Linked DNA regions of Homo sapiens: region 1 is linked to region 2. The links come from fine-mapping of genetic effects on gene expression. Tissue or cell type: monocytes after LPS. Region 2 holds a variant in brackets; the other region holds the start of a gene. All regions are shown on one strand. Distances are from middle to middle.

What was found. PIP is the estimated chance that this variant, and not a neighbour inherited with it, causes the effect.
Region 1: it holds the start of COMMD5, and the variant in region 2 is fine-mapped to the expression of COMMD5 in monocytes after LPS (Quach 2016, PIP 0.95).

The regions. Positions count from the first base shown.
Region 1 is chr8:144,848,502-144,856,605 of GRCh38, forward strand. COMMD5 (COMM domain containing 5) reads right to left here and starts at 4,547. Exons shown (of 2, transcript NM_014066.4): 1 at 4,338-4,547; 2 at 1,675-2,894. The coding sequence starts at 2,837. The coding sequence ends at 2,163. RefSeq lists silencers at 2,404-2,555, 4,588-4,777 and enhancers at 3,762-4,610, 4,188-4,517, 5,068-5,167.
Region 2 is chr8:144,812,958-144,821,061 of GRCh38, forward strand. It overlaps LOC100130027 (a long non-coding RNA gene), which reads right to left. Exons shown (of 5, transcript NR_147501.1): 2 at 3,003-3,151; 3 at 1,359-1,487; 4 at 234-349. It also overlaps a transcript of ZNF517 not described here. Among named protein-coding and RNA genes, the nearest start is that of ZNF7, 11 kb to the right of the region's middle. The variant T/C (reference allele first, on the strand shown) is at 4,020.

The DNA.
Region 1 (8,104 bases), 36 kb after region 2:
AAAAAAAAAAGATGGTATTGGAACACAGCCATATACATTTGTTTACGTATTGTGTGACTGCTTTCAAGCCACCATGGCAGGGTGGACAGAAACTTCATGGCCCACAAAATCTAAAATGTTTACTCTCTGGCCCTTTGTGGGAAGAGTTTGCTCACTGCTGAGTCAGAGGAAGTGGCCTCTAAGTCTGCTCCACGCTGTAGGGATCTCAAGTCCAACTGGATCATGTCTGCCCTGATTAAAACCCCACTGCTCCCCCTTGCCCCAGTGGAATGACCAAAATCCTGTGTGTGGCCTTGAGGCCAGCCGCTGTCCCTGCACTTGATCCCCCATCCCTCAATCCCCTATACTCGGGCAGTGCCAGCCCCAGTCCCAGGAATGGCCCACTCCCCTGCCTGTGTCTCATAAGCTGTCTTTTCATGGCTGTGTCTTGATTTGCCTGGGTCCCCGCTTGAGACAAGCCCAAGGGTTCACAGATGAATTGAGGCAAACACAGATTCCCAATGAGAGACGGCGAGAGGTCAGCCTGAGGACCGAGGGCAGGTCCATGCTCTGGGCTCCACACAGGCTTTGCTAAGCAGCTGGGAGAAGCAGAAGGATGGGGCTGTCCCTAAAGCTGCTGTTCCTGCAGGGCCAGGGCCAGTGAGTGAGAAAGGCAACATGGTCCCAGCTGCCCCAGCCCCATCCACATCTGGGGACAGAGAATGCAGGAAGTGGCTGGTCATATTCCTGATCCGATGACAGTGGGGGGACAGTGCCTTCGGGGAGAGAGAAGGGCTTTACCTGGAACTCAGTGAGGGTGGGACAAAGCTGAGTGATCGACCAGATGGCAGGACCCACAAGCATGCACCTTAGAGGGCACCTGGGCTCCTCCCAGAGTCTACTGACCCCACCCCCAGGTACTCCTCTGTACCCTGACATGTCAGAACTGCCCATGGAGGGATGAGGAAGAAATCCAGGCTAGTGGAGGAGACAACCCAAAAACTGCAGACAAGACAAACAGCCAAGCAACCCCAGGCACTCAAAGACAAGGGGAGGTTTCTCAGCAGAGAACAGACTAGACATGGTCCAGAAGTGCTCCACGGAGGCAGGAACAGTCAGCTGGAAGCCAGCTGACCGAAAATGGCTCTGCAGAGACCGAGCACCAAGGCCCCTCCTGGAACACAGTTATGCTGGAAGCTGCAAAGCTGGCTACAACCCCTGCACACACCTGCCCTAGAGGCACCCGGGAGAGGTCCCTGCCACCAACTCCACCCTGGTGACAGCCTCTCTGCTGGGCTCTAGCCTCCTCCCTTGCACCCCTCCACACAGCAGCCAATCACCAGATCACGTCTCTCCTCTGCTGAAAACCCTCAGAAGGGCTCCTCTGTCACTCAGAATTGAGCCAAAGTCCTTAAAAGGCTCTCAGGCCTTGACCTCTGTACCCTCCCCAACGTCGCCTCCCCACAATGATCTCCACCTGCTTGGCTGCAGCCAGGCGGGCCTTAAGCACGTCAGGCCTCCCCACACTGGCCGCCTGAGCCCCGTCCTCCCCACCTTGTGCTGCTCCCCTCAGAGCGCTGTGCCCCCGGCTCCTTCAAGTCCTCGCTCAGATGTCACACCCTCAAGGAAGGTCGCCCCATCAGCACGCAGACCCCACCCTACTTGCTGCATCACACGCCATCCTCTGATGAGCTATTCCAGTTAATTTTTATGATTTATTTTACAATGTTTCCCCTCCCCTCAGCCGCACTAGAATGTCAGCTCCATGGGGTCAGGGATTTAAGGCAGAAGAGTGAAAATGCCCAACCTAAAACACAAGATCTACAAAAGCACCTGGCTACATGGGGCCAGGCTGAGCAACTGTATGTTGTCTACAAAGGGCCTCAACCTGGCCTCACATGGCCACGTCCAGCACCAAAGACAAATGTACAGGGAAGGGGAGGGTGTGAGGTCCAACACTCACCTATAGAAACATGTTTTTAGCTGCTTTACTTCCAAAAAGAAAAAAAGGCATAGCTCTCTTTTTCAATTAAACAGAAAACTACATAATTACGTTCAAACACTCACTGAAGAGCCTGCCTCATGGGAAGGGCAGGGCTGTCGTGGGAAGAGTCAGCTGCACTTTGGCACCATCTCAGGTGCCTGTCCAAGCCGGATCTGAATGGGACTGGTCAAGTGAGGGGTCAGTCCTGCAGTCTGCGCTCACACCTCTTCTCCAGATCTGCCATCTCCTTTAGGACCAGGGCCACGCTGTACCGCAGCTCCTGGAACTTGGCTGTGGGGACCTCAAAGCGGTATGCTGACCCATCTGAAAGCTTCAGCTGCATCAGGACGCTCGGCTGCAGGGAGCGAGCCAGGGCACTGGTGGAGATTGCTACATCCACCCGCCACCGAAAGTCAGCAACATGCGGCAGCCAGGCCCCCTGCTGCTGGGCCACAGAATCAAGGAGGGGCCGCTGGCTCCCAAATACCACGCTGGCCAAGTCCCCGACCAGGTCTTGGGGGATGCAGAGCTCCTGGAGCTGGTCCCTGAAGGTGTCAGGCTTCAGGCTGGTGGGGGGCAGACGGAGGGCCTGCTGGAGCAGTGTGTGCATGCCTGCCAGCAGGGCACCCAGCTGCTCCTCCGGCAGGTTGGCGCTGACCCCAAGACGCTGCACAGCCTCTCGGCAGTCCTCCCCCTGCAGGCTGCTGACCACAAACTTCAGCAACTTTCTGAACGTGCTCCTGTCTAGGTCCCCTAGTAGCCGGGCCATTGCTGCCACCTCTGGAGGAAGCTGGGCCCCCAAGAAACTCACTCGGCCACTGTGACTATCACCAGGATGATGCAGGTATGGAGTTGCAGCCCCCACAGCAGACATTGCTGCTGCTTCCTCTTTGATCAGCCAGCCCAGGAGGTCGGTCCCAGATGCAGATGCCTAGAGTGGGGTGGAGGAGAGAAGACCAGTGACTCTCACATCCTTTGGGCCAGCGAGTGAGGGTTGATATGGTCCCCATCATCAGCATGCTGACAGTGTGAACTACCAATGACAGTCAGTGCTGCGGAGATGGCCCTGGAAGCAGGTGGCAGAGGGGTCCATGTCAGTCCCAGGAGGAGCGGAGGCCTCCCAGAGGAAGTGACATCTAAGGCATGAAGGACAAGCAGGAATTGGCAGAGAAGTAGGGGGCAGGGAGGAGGACCAGGAAACAGCACAAGTTCTCCAAGTAAATTAATAGATGAAAGAATGAACTAGGGGAACGGTCCGGGGAACACAGGGACACTGCAGCTGGCGCCACAGACCACACTGAGACCATTTAACTATTCAATCTTGAATCCTTCACAACAGTGGGCAAGAAGAATTACCATTCTCACCTGACAGAGAGGGAGATAAGGCTCTAGGCCAGGTGCAGTGGCTCAAGCCTGAAATCTCAGCACTTTGTGAAGGTGAGGCCAGCGGATCGCTTGAGCCCAGGAGTTGGAGACCAACCTGGGCATCATAGCAAGACCCCGTTTCTACAAAAAATTTAAAAAACTAGCCAGGCGTGGTGGTGCACGTCTGTAGTCCCAGCTACTCAGAAGGCTGAGAGGACAGAGGATCCCTTGAGCCCAGGAAGTCGTGGCTGCAGTGAGACGAAATCGAGCCGCTGCACTCCAGCCTGGACAACAGAGATGCTGTGAGGAAGGAAGGAAGGAACGAACGAATGGAGGGAGGGGGGAGGGAGGGGAGGCAGGGAAGAAGAAAAGAAAAGTAAAAAGAAATCAAAGCTCTAAACACAGCTGCCAAAGTCAAGGACTGAAGCCTAGACCTGTCTATTCAGAAGTCCCAGCTGTTTCCACCACAGCCCCAACCCCCGGGCTGGAAGAGCTGAGCAACGGCTGGCAACAGAGGCAAGTGCGGCAACTAAAGAGGGTTCCGACGCACCTGAAGGAGCAGTGCAGCAGCACAAGCACCTGCTATGCCAGAGGAAACGCACGTGCCCACCTCAGCACACCAGGTACTGGAGCAGAGCTCAGCGGGGCACAGCTCCTGTCCTCGAGGCACTTGTCAGGCCACTCTGCACAGCGCTGGGGGAGCCCAGGAGCTCCCCACGGGCTTCACGGCGCCCCATTCTCCCTGGGAGTCAACGACCACCCACTGCCAACTCCTTCACCGTCCCGCCAGCACCAGGAGCTCCTTCCCACTCCAAAGAGCCATCCGGGAAGGCCTCCGAGCTGCCCGCTTCCGGTCGCGCGGCTTGGAAGGCCGGGTTCGCACCCTGACTCCGTACCCGCGGCTCTGATGGGGGCGCGGCGTCGCCCGTTCCGGGGCGCGGGGACCTTGGTGCACAGAGTCAAATTGGCACTCGGCCGTCGCCGCCCCCACGGTTCGGGGCCAACCTACCGGCGGGCGCTCCTCCGCGGAAAAGCCCCGCAGTATCCAGAGCTCTCCGAACACAGCGGCGAAGCAGCCTTTCCTAGGCCCACACCCCCAGCTCGGGAGGGAGACTCCATCCTACTCCACCCCACGCTCCCGCTGTCCGAGTCGCCCCCAGCACCTGGCGCCGGCAATCCCCGGCTGATGCAGCCAAAAGCGGGCCTGGTCCCCGGAAGCGCCCTGAGAGCCACTTCCGGGCCGCTCTAGGAAGGCAGCAATGACCGCCCCACTGTGGTCCGCTGGCCCGAGGGGCGGAGCCGAGGCCGCGCCAGGTCCCGCCCCCTCCCCGCCCGGGGGAATCGGGGGTCGCCGGCGGGGTCCCAGACCTCGTCTTAGACAGTTTTTTTTTTTTCTTTCCCCAAAGAAAAAGAAGGCGGTGTTGTGTTTCCGTTTCTGAGGTAGAAACTGCGGCCTGCGCCCGCGTCTCCCTCCCCGCCCGCGCAGAGTGAGGGTAAAGCGGGAGAACGCGTCCCGTGGTCTGGGGTCAGAATTCCAGTCACCTGAGGCTGAGGAGCTCGCTGGCTTTCGTCGGCGTCCGGGTGGGCGGCGGGGAAACCGCGAGACCTTGAGGATCAGCGCGGAGCGGAGCCGAGCGGGCGTCCCTGTCCCGTGTGGACGGTCTGCGCCTCCAGGGTTTTGAGAGCTGCCCCGTTTCCCCTCCTGTCGGGTGGCGTCCGGCGCGCGTGACTCGGTTCCGCTTTGGGCTGCTCTGTTGGGCCCTAGCGCAGGAGCTCGGTCCGAAACAATGGCCGAGCCATTTTATTTAACATGTACTTTACCATAGTTAAAAAATAATATGCCAAAATCATTGAATTGTACAAAATGGGTGAATTATATGGTATGTGAATTATAGCCCAATAAAACTTAAAAAAAAAAAAAAAACTCTGAAAAGGGAAACAACCTAATTAAATGGGCAGAAGATGTGAGTAGACATCAAGGAAGATACAAAGTGGGTAATGGGTACATGAAGCCTTCGGCATTGTTGGCTATTAGAGAAATGCGAATGGAAGCCACGGGGAGGTGCCATTTCATACCATTAGAAGGGTTATAATAAAAATGACAGGTTGGGTGCGGTGGCTCACGCCTGTAATCCCAGCACTTTGGGAGGCGGAGGTGGACAACCAGATCTCAGGAGAACTCTATCATGAGACCATAACTTAAGGGCATGGTACTAAACCATTCATGAAAAGCCACCCCCACGATCCAATCACTTCCCACCAGTCTCCACCTCCAGCATTGGGTATTACCTTTCAGCATGAGGTTTGGGCGGGGACACAGATGCAAACCACATCAGCCATACAATGGAATAGTGTTCAATAATAAATAGGAGTGGAGACTGGGTGCAGTGGCTCATGCCTACAATCCCAGTACTTTATGAGGACTAGGTGGGAGGACCACTTGAGGCTAGGAGTTCAAGACCAGCCTGGGCGACATATCAAGGCTTCATTTTTACAAAATTAAAAAAAAAAACAGGTGTGGTGGTGTGCACCTATAGCAGGGGTCCCCAACCCTCAGGCTGTGGACCGCTACAGGTCAGTGGCCTGTTAGGAACTGACCTCACAGCAGGAGGTGAGGGCAACCTATAGTCCCAGCTATTTGAGAGGCAGAGTGAGGACCACTTCAGTTCAGGAATTTGAGACCAGCCTGGGGAACATGGCAAGACTCCATTTCTAAGACAAAACAAATCAAGTCTAAAAACCATGCTGAGGGAGGATTGTTTAAAGGGAATGGATCTGGGAAGTTTAGAAAGAGACTGCATCTGTAAGGTGTTATTTCTCTTTAAAATATCTGAAGCAAAAAGGTGAAGTGCTATCACTTGTGAGGTCTGGGCGGTGGTTACGTGGCAGACCCACCCCCTCCTGAAGTGAGGAGAGCCAGGAACCTGGGGGTGAGTTTTGGAGACAGTTCCCACCCAAAGGCCAGAGTGCCTGGAGTGCCTGGAGAACTCTCATCTTATTGTAGCAGGATGAGCCACAGACAAAACTTCTCAGACACTGGGTTAAAGAAGGAAGGGGTTTTATTTGGCTGGGAGCTTTGGCAGACTTGTGTCTTAAGAGCTGAGCTCCTCGAAAAAGAAATTACTGGCCCTTTTAAGGGCTTACAACCCTAAAGGGTCCACGTGAAAGGGTTATTATGATAGACTGGGAAAGCATGGAGAACATGACTGGAGGCTACAAGCATCAGCTAACAGAACAGAAAGTTTTACAATGCTTTCTTATACAATGTCTGGAATTTACAGATAACACAAGTAGTTTAGGTTAGGGGTTGATATTATTAACACCAGGGCCAGGTGATGGCACCAAGGTCATCTGGCTATTTATCTTCTGTTTCTTTCTCACTTTTTGTTTTCTCCCATTTCTCCTGTCTTATAAACTAGGCAAGACAGGGGGAGAGGAGGGCAGTAGGAGAAGTGGTGGTCTCCTTCCTTACTATGATCAACATTTGTAAGTTAATTTAGCTTGAAACAATTTCAAGCTTAGATAAAAGGTTGCATGAATAGTGCACCTTCCCAGAGACCCCCATTCAAGGGTCACCAGGTGTCCCTGCAATGTCTCTGAAGGAAAGGAGCCTGTTGCCTGGCAAGAGTGGTGTCATCTCGAAGCAAAATCACTGTGGTGGCCGATGTTAGACTCCTGCATACCAAGGTCTTCACACAAGGCCTGTAGCATTGATAACCCCTCAGAAAGATGCTACCTAACTTCCCCAGCAGTCATGAATTTTGCAAGAAAGTCTAAGACATCACCAGCTGCACATGTTTTTACCAAAAAGCTTGCTATATAAAGGATGCTTTCTGGGGGGCAGGTGCAGGGATCCACTGTCTTGTGGCTGCCCGAGATACTACTTTGTTCATAAGTTTCTAGTAAATGTTTCTTTTGGAGAAACTCCATTTGTCAGCCTCTTTTTTCAGCCTCTCAGCTCCCTTGGCCTTTGGGGGTAGGTTTGTGTGACCTGCTTACTGCGGAGCAATCCCTCAGAGCATCAGGAATCGGCCGAGGGTCACAAGTTGCACCCACTTGTCCTGTTTCTTGTCTCCTTCAGTCTAGAACAGCCTCTCCATCTCCTGGACTTTCAGGACCCTGAAGTTTAATGTTTATATGCAGTCCTTTTGGAAATTTTTTCTCAAATTATCATCATTCTCTTGGTCAAGGCAGTGACTGAGCCTGCCCAGATTCAAGAAGACATTGAAGATATTGCTCCTGCTCTCAAAGGGAGGGAGGCCAAAGAACCTGTGGCATCCTCAGTCAGCCACAGCAGCCACCATGGTGGTAACTCAGGCAAGAAGCACCAATACCTGTGAAAGCCAGGTGTCTCCAGGGCATGAGGCTCAGGATGTTTACACAGTGTCAAAACATCACCATGCAATGTAATTATTATTAATTACAAAGGGGAATAAGGTAACTTCACAGGAGACAAACCAGGCAAACAGCACCCTGGTCAAATGATCTAAGACAAAACCACAAGTAATGGCACAAACCAATGTCATTCTCCAACTGTCAGCTGCGGTGGGAAGGCATCACCGCAGAGCTGCCTGAGACACTTCCACCCAAACTTCTCTCCACTTGGTGTCAAGCTTGAAGCCATCTGATGGCCCCTCCATCTTCCTGGTTACCTCACTATTTTCTACCCCAGACATTTCTCTGAACACGACGTTTGTATCCTTAATCTTGGTGTCTTCTTCTTGGAGGACCCAGACCAACACAAATGGGCCAGAAGCAGCTTGAGAAAACTGGTGA
Region 2 (8,104 bases):
AAAAAACCAGGAAAGCAATTCCATTTACAATAGCTACCAAAACCAAAAAACAAACCTAGGAATAAATTTAACCAATGAGGCTGGGCGCAGTGGCTCATACCTGTAATACTAACACTTTGGGAGGCCGAGATGGTGGATCACGAGGTCAGGAGATTGAGACCATCCTGGCTAATACAGTGAAACCCCATCTCTACTAAAAATACAAAAAATTAGCCGGGCCTGGTGGCACACACCTGCAGTTCCAGCTACTCGGGAGGCTGAGGCAGGAGAATCGCTTGAACCTGGGCGTCGGAGGTTGCAGTGAGCCGAGATGGCACCATCGCACTCCAGCCTGGATGACAGAGCCGGACTCTGTCTCAAAAAAAAAAAAAAAAAAAAGAAAATTAACCAATGAGGTTAAAGAGCTCTACAAGGACAATTATAAAACACTGATGAATAGGTCACACACACACAAAACGGAAAGTCATCTCATGTTCATGGATTGGAATAATTAATTTGGTGAAAATGACAATACTACCAAAAGCAATTTACAGATTAAATGCAATCCCCATCAAAATACCAATGACATTCTTCACAGCAATAGGGAAAAAAAATCCCGAAATTCATATACAATGACAGAAGACGCTGAACAGCCTAAATCAATCCTGAGCAAAAAGAACAAAGCTGAAGGCATCACACTACTTTAAAATATAGTACAAAGCTATAATAATCAAAACAGCATGGGCCAGGCACAGTGGCTCATACCTATAATCCCGGAATTTTGGGAGGCCAAGGTGGGCAGCTCACATGAGGCCAGGAGTTCATGACCAGCCTGGCTAACATAGCAAAACTCCATTTCTACTAAAAATGCAAAAATCAGCCTGGCGTAGTGGTGCACACATGTAATCCCAGCTACTTGGGAGGATGTCTTGAACCCGGGGGCAGAATTTGCAGTGAGCCAAAGTCGTGCCACTGCACTCCAGCCTGGGGAACAGAGTGAGACCCTGTCTCAAAAAACAAAACCCAGCATGTTACTGATATAAAAACAGACACATAGACCAATAGAACAAAATAGAGAACCCAGAAATAAGTCCATATATTCAGTGAACTGATTTTCAACAAAGGTGCCAAGAACATTAACTGGGGAAAGAGCAGTGAATGGTGCTGGGAAAACTGGAAATACATTTTGAGGATACGCAGAAAAATGAAACTAGAACCCTATCTTGTCCGGGTGCAGTGGCTCATGCCTGTAATCTCAGCACTTTGGGAGGCCGAGGTGGGCAGATCATTTGAGGTCAGGAGTTTGAGACCAGCCTGGCCAACATGGCGAAACCTGTCTACTAAAAATACAAAAATTAGCCAGGTGTGGTGGCACACACCTGTAATCCCAGCTACTTGGGAGGCTGAGGCAGGAGAATTGCTTGAACCAGGGAGTGGAGCGGCGAGTGGAGGTTGCAGTGAGCTGAGAGCACGCCACTTCACTCCAGCCTGGGAGAAAGAGTGAGACTCTGTAAAACAAACAAACAAAAACAAAACAAAACAAAAACCTATCTCTCACCATATATAAAAATCAAATCAAAATAGATTAAAGATGAAAGACATAAATGTAAAACCTGAAAGTATGAAACTACTAGAAGAAAACATTGGGGATATGCTTCAGGACACTGGTCTGGGCAAAGATTTTTTGGGTAAGATCTCAAAAGCAAAGGCAACAAAAGCTAAAATAGATAAGTGGGATTATATCACTCTAAAAACCTGCACAGCCAAGGAAACAACAGAGACAACCTACAGAATGGGAGAAATTTTTTACTAACTATCCATCTGACAAGGGATGAATGACCAGAATATCCTACAGAAATGGGTTTGCCAAAAAAAAAAAAAAAAAAAAAAAAATAGGCCAGGCGCAGTGGCTCACACCTGTAATCCCAGCACTTTGGGAGGCCAAGATGGGCGGATCACGAGGTCAGGAGATCGAGGCCATCCTGGCTAACACGGTGAAACCCCCGTCTCTACTGAAAATACAAAAAAATTAGCCGGGCGCGGTGGTGAGCACCTGTAGTCCCAGCTACTCGGGAGGCTGAGGCAGGAGAATGGCGTGAACCCGGGAGGTGGAGGTTGCAGTGAGCCGAGATCGTGCCACTGCACTCCAGCCTGGGCGACAGAGTGAGACTCCGTCTCAAAAAAAGAAAAAAAAAAAAAAGAATAACGAGAATATATAAGGAACTCGCACAACTCAATAGCAAAAAAAAAAAATAATAATAGTAATAATCTGATTTTAAAAGGCAAGTGATCTGAATAGACATTTTACAAAAGATGTACAAACGGCCAACAGGGGCCAGGTGCAGTGGCTCACGCCTGTTAATCCCAGCAGTTTGGGAGGCTGAGGCAGGTGGATTACTGTGGCCAGGAATTTGAGACTAGTCTGGCCAACATGGTAAAACCCTGTCTCTACTAAAAATACAAAAATTAGCTGGGCATGGTAGCTTGTGCTTGTAGTCCCAGCTGCTTGGGAGGCTGAAGCCCAAGAATTGCTTGAACCCGGGTGGCAGAGGTTGCAGTGAGCTGAGATTGCACACTGCATTCCAGCCTGGGTGACAGAGACTCTGTCTCAAAAAAAAAAAAAAAAAAAAAGCCAAAAAAAAAAGGGTCAACATCACTAATCATCAGAGAAATGCAAATCAAAACCACAATGAGATATCATCTCATCCAGTTAAAATGATTATTAACAAAAAGACAACAGATGCTGGTGAGGATGTGGAGAAAGCAGGTACTCTGCTGGTGGGAATGTAAACTATACAGCCACTGTGGAAAACACTGGAGTTTTCTCAAAAAGCTGAAAAATAGACCTACCATATGATCCAGCAATCCCACTGCTGGGTATATTTCCAAAAGAAAGGAAATCAGTATATCAAAGAGTTGTCTTTACTCATGTTTACTGCGGCACTATTCACAATAGCCAAGATAGGAATCAACCTAAGTGTCCATCAGCATGTGAATGGATAAAGAAAATGAGGTACACTTACACAGTGGAGAACTATTCATCGTCAAAGGAGGAAATCCTAGGCCGGGCGCGGTGGTTCACGCCTGTAATCCCAGCACTTTGGGAGGCTGAGGCAGGCAGATCACCTGAGGTCAGGAGTTCGAGACCAGCCTCAACATGGAGAAACCCCGTCTGTAGTAAAAATACAAAATTAGCCAGGTGTGGTGGTGCATGCCTGTAATTCCAGCTACTCAGGAGGCTGAGGCAGGAGAATTGCTTGAAACTGGGAGGCGGAGGTTGCAGTGAGCCGAGATCGCGCCATTGCACTCCAGCCTGGGCAACAAGAGGAAAACTCCGTCTCAAAAAAAAAAAAAAAAAAAAAATTCCTGTCGTTTGTAGCAACATGGATAGAACTGGAGGTCATTATGTTAAGTGAAATAAGCCAGGTACAGAAGACAAATACTGTACATTCTCACTCATACGTGGGAGTTAATAAAGTTTATCTTGGCCAGGCACAGTGGCTCACGCCTGTAATCCCAGCACTTTGGGAGGCTGAGGCAGGCAGATCACCTGAGGTCAGGAGTTTGAGACCAGCCTGGCCAACATGGCGAAACTCCGTCTGTACCAAAAATATAAAAAATTAGCCGGGCATGGTGACGCGTGCCTGTAATCCCAGTTACTCCGGAGGCTGAGGCAGGAGAATCACTTGAACCTAGGAGGCAGAGGTTGCAATGAGCCAAGATCACGCCACGGCACTCCAGCCTGGGCGACAGAGCAAGACTCCATCTCAAAAAAAAAAAAAAAAAGTTGGTCTAATGTAGGTAGAGAGTAGAATGATGGTTACTGGAGGCTAGGAAGGATGGGGTGGGAGATGAATATATGTTGATTAATGGGTACAAACATAAAGTTAGATAGAAGAAATATATTCCAGTGTTTGATAGCACACTAGGGTGATGATAGTTGTAATAATTTATTGCATATTTAAAAATAGCTAGAAGATTTGAAATGTTTCCAACACAAATAAATGATAAACGTTTGAGGTGATGGGTATCATAATCAA[T/C]GTGATTTGATCATTGCACATTGTATTCGTGTGTAAATATCAAAATACGACATGTACCCCATATATAGGTACAATTATTACATATCCATCGATCAACTAGGGGGGCATTCTCACCTCACGCACTTCTCCTAACTATTGGCCGCTTCCCAGAACCTTATACTTGTCTCTGCAGTTTATTTTCTTATTCTAATACCTATTCTGACTTCTTTTAAAAATGTGTCTTTCCTTCTGTTTTTCCCCCAGTGATTATGTACTCCCTACCACTGCCAAACTTTCTGAAAGGGCTGTCATTGTCTCCACTTCCCTTGCCTCTCGTTCACTCTTTGAAATACTGCAGTTGGATTTTGAACCCCATTACTCCATTAAAATCATCCTCACCAAGTCACCAGCTGACCTCCTTATGCTGAAAACAGCGGACTCTTGTCATTCTTGCCCTCTGAGCACTCGACCGTGCCTTCCTCTCAATCGTCCCTTCCCTGTATTTTCATGACACTGCACTCTGGGTTTTCCTTCTACCTCTCCACTACTCCATCTTTTCCTTTGCCCATTCCTTAAAGATTCATATTGCTGGCCGGGCGCGGTGGCTCATGCCTGTAATCCCAGCACTTTGGGAGGCCGAGGTGGGTGGATCACTTGAGGTCAGGAGATAGAGACCATCCTGGCCAACATAGTAAAACCCCATCTCTACTAAAAAGACAAAAATTAGCCGGGCGTGGTGGCACACACCTGTAGTCCAGCTACTTGGGAAGCTGAGGCAGGAGAATCACTTGAACCCAGGAAGCGGAGGTTGCAGTGAGCCAAGACTGCGCCATTGCACTCCAGCGTGGGTGACAGAGTGAGACTCTGTCTCAAAAAAAAAAAAAAGGTTAATATTTCTTTCTGTCCTAAAGCCATCTGTCTCTTCATTTGACATACCCACTGGACAATTTCATACACTTCCATGGCTAAATTATCTTCTGTAGATGTTGGTGGCATCTAACCTCTAGTCCACATCTCCTGAATTTCCTATCTATATATCCAACTCTCTACAGGACATCTTTATTTGTATGTCTCGAAATGCCTTTTAAATCAAACTCATCATCTCCCAACACTCTCATTTGCCACTGTATCTCAAGTACCCAGGAAACACATTAAGCCTCTAAAAAACATTAATGGCCAGACACTGTGGCTCACACCTGTAATTCCAACATTTTGGGAGGCTGAGACGGGAGAATCCCTTAAGGCAAGGAGTTTGAGACCAGCCTGGCCACATGCATGTGTAAATGTCAAAATATCACATGTGCCCCATAAATACGTACAATTGTTATGTATCACTACAGGCAACATATTGAGACTGTCTCTTAAAAAAAAAAAATCGGCCGGGCGCAGTGGCTCACCCCTGTAATCCCAGCACTTTGGGAGGCTGAGGCAGGCGGATCACGAGGTCAGGAGATCGAGACCATCCTGGCTAACACGGTGAAACCCCGTCTCCACTAAAAATACAAAAAATTAGCTGGGCGTGGTGGCGGGCACCTGTAGTCCCAGCTACTCAGGAGGCTGAGGCAGGAGAATGGCGTGAACCCGGGAGGCAGAGCTTGCAGTGAGCCGAGATCGCGCCACTGCACTCCAGCCTGGGCGAAAGAGCGAGACTCTGTCTCCGGAAAAAAAAAAAAAAGAAAGATCAAATGATCAAATGATGTGAGGCTGTGGTGCCCGCTTTGTAGAAATGAAAGGATCTAATTGAAGACAGAAGTTTTGGGCACAGAGGCCACAGCCCAAATCCTTCACCTAAAATCACTATCTCTGAGCTACTTTTTAACTTTAAAATAAAAGGAAAAAATAAAAAATAAAAAATAAAATAAAATAAAAGGAGGCTGGGCGTGGTGACTCATGCCTGTAATCCCAGCACTTTGGGAGGCTGAGGTAGGTGGATAGCTTGAGGCCAGGAGTTCAAGACCAGCCTGGCCAACATGGCAAAACCCTGTCTTTACTAAAAATACAAAAATTAGCCGGGTGTGGTGGTGCGCGCCTGTAGTCCCAGCTACTCGGGAGGCTGAGGCACAAGAACCGATTGAACCCGGGAGGTGGAGGTTGCAGTGAGCTGAGATCACACCAGCCTGGCTGACAGAGTGAGACTCTGCCTAAAAATAAATAAATAAAAATAAAATAAAATAAAATGTAAAAAGAAACAGGTAACATTAAATACAGTAATACACTTTATTTACCTTAAATCCAAAATATAATTCCAAATGCAATCAATATAAAAAAATCATCGGTGAGAGATTTGATTTGATTTTTCATACTGAGTCTTTGAAATCAAGTGTTTTCATTTGTGGCACATGTCGATTTGGACGGGGCACTTTCCAGGTGTCTGATGGCCACGTGGGGCTTGAGCCCACCATGCTGGACACTGCAGGTCCTGACTAAAGGGGCGCTGGGGTGGGTGAACTGCTGCCTGGCCCCACTTCTGGCCCCTCCTTTCCTGCAGCCCTTCCCACAGGGCCTGCCACTTCTCCCGCTCCCTGCCCCAGGCCACTGTTGGGGAGGTCAGCATAGCCCTTGTCCCCTAAGTTAAATGGAGGGGCAAATCTGCAAGCTTCTGCCCAAAACGTCTCGGAGTGGACACTTCAACCTGGCAGCAACTCTGGGGCCAGTTAGCTTGGATTTCTACGTAACGGGCAAAATGTCATAGGCTCCCACAAGGAAGCAGCGCCCTCCACCCAGCTCTGTGGCCTTTGGCTCTAATCTGACACTGTATGGGTGGCCAGGCCCCCAGGCTGGACCCACAGCAGCCTCCCACTACCGCCAGTGGCCTGAGATTGGCAGTTAGAACTCAGATCCTGAAACTAAACCACATCCTGCAGAACACTAAGCAAGGGACTCACTTTATGATCTAAGATCCAAACTCCTTTGTGAACTCCCCATTGTCTGGCTTGGGGAAAAAAGCCTGTCACTAACTGAGGAGTCTAGTTACTCACACTTCTTCACCAGCAGCCCAAGGGGGTCTGACAGGGGGTAGGGGGAGATCACATTGCATTGGAAAAAGAAACCCCCAGCCTATGGGACACAAGCTCCTTTCACCTGTGCTCCTCCTCTCCTGCTCAGCATCACACCTGGCCTGCAATCACCCACAACTGTCCTCCTCCCACACACAGCTGCTGTGGAAGGCAGGAGGTGGTTCTGTGGGCGTGGGGGAGACCCTGGTGGCACCCTTAGCAGCCTGACCTCTGTGCCTCCGTGTCTCACCTGCAAAGGAGGGCATCTCCTGCCTCACAGGTGCTTGTGAGGACGAGCTGAGAGACCAGCTTTTGAACGGGGAGGGGCTGTGACATGTCAGGGCTGTTCTGGACCCAGGGTTACTGCAGTGAACCAGAAAGATTGTGCTGCAGGAGCCGAGGAGGTTGCCCTGACAGGCCTGGAAGTGGCTTAGGCTTGGATCCTCCATCCCTGAGCACCTGGCATCGGGCAGACCAGCCTCCCTGGGGCAATGCCCACTGAGAAGCTGCAAAGCATCCTCCTGGACCATCTGTACCCTGGGGGGACATCCCTTGGTCCCTCTGTACCCTGCAGACCGGCCCCTCTTGAGGGACACACAGACTCCGGCAAGGCAGGAGCCAAGGGCAGTGAAGCAAACCTGTCAAGGTGCTGCCGTTCCCTTGGGTGTCTCCCGCCAAGCGGCCTCCATTCTCAAGGAAGGGAGCACCGGCCACCTGTATGCATCCACCGCGCGAGTGCGCAGGGGCAGGCTTGCCAGGACGGAGCGGCCTTGCCACCCACTGCCCACGAAGGCATCCTGGCACACCCAGCATGGTCTGAAACCCTCGTATGAAGGAGGAGCTTCTCACAGCCTGCTGCTGCCCCAGCCACAAGAAACACAGGAGCACAGGTAGGGCCCACGGAGTCCTTGAGGCCTGCTACGAGGGGCCAGTAACTACGTTTACGCCAGCAGCCATAAGCACAGGGACACAGGCAGATACCACCAGCCCGGGAAGGACGGGTGCGGTGGCTCACGTGCCACCTGCCTTCTTGCCGCAGCAGGCCTGTGGCCACTCTCTGGCTCTGCCTATCCCCATGCAGGCTGGACCTGTGGGGCACTGGTCCCTGGA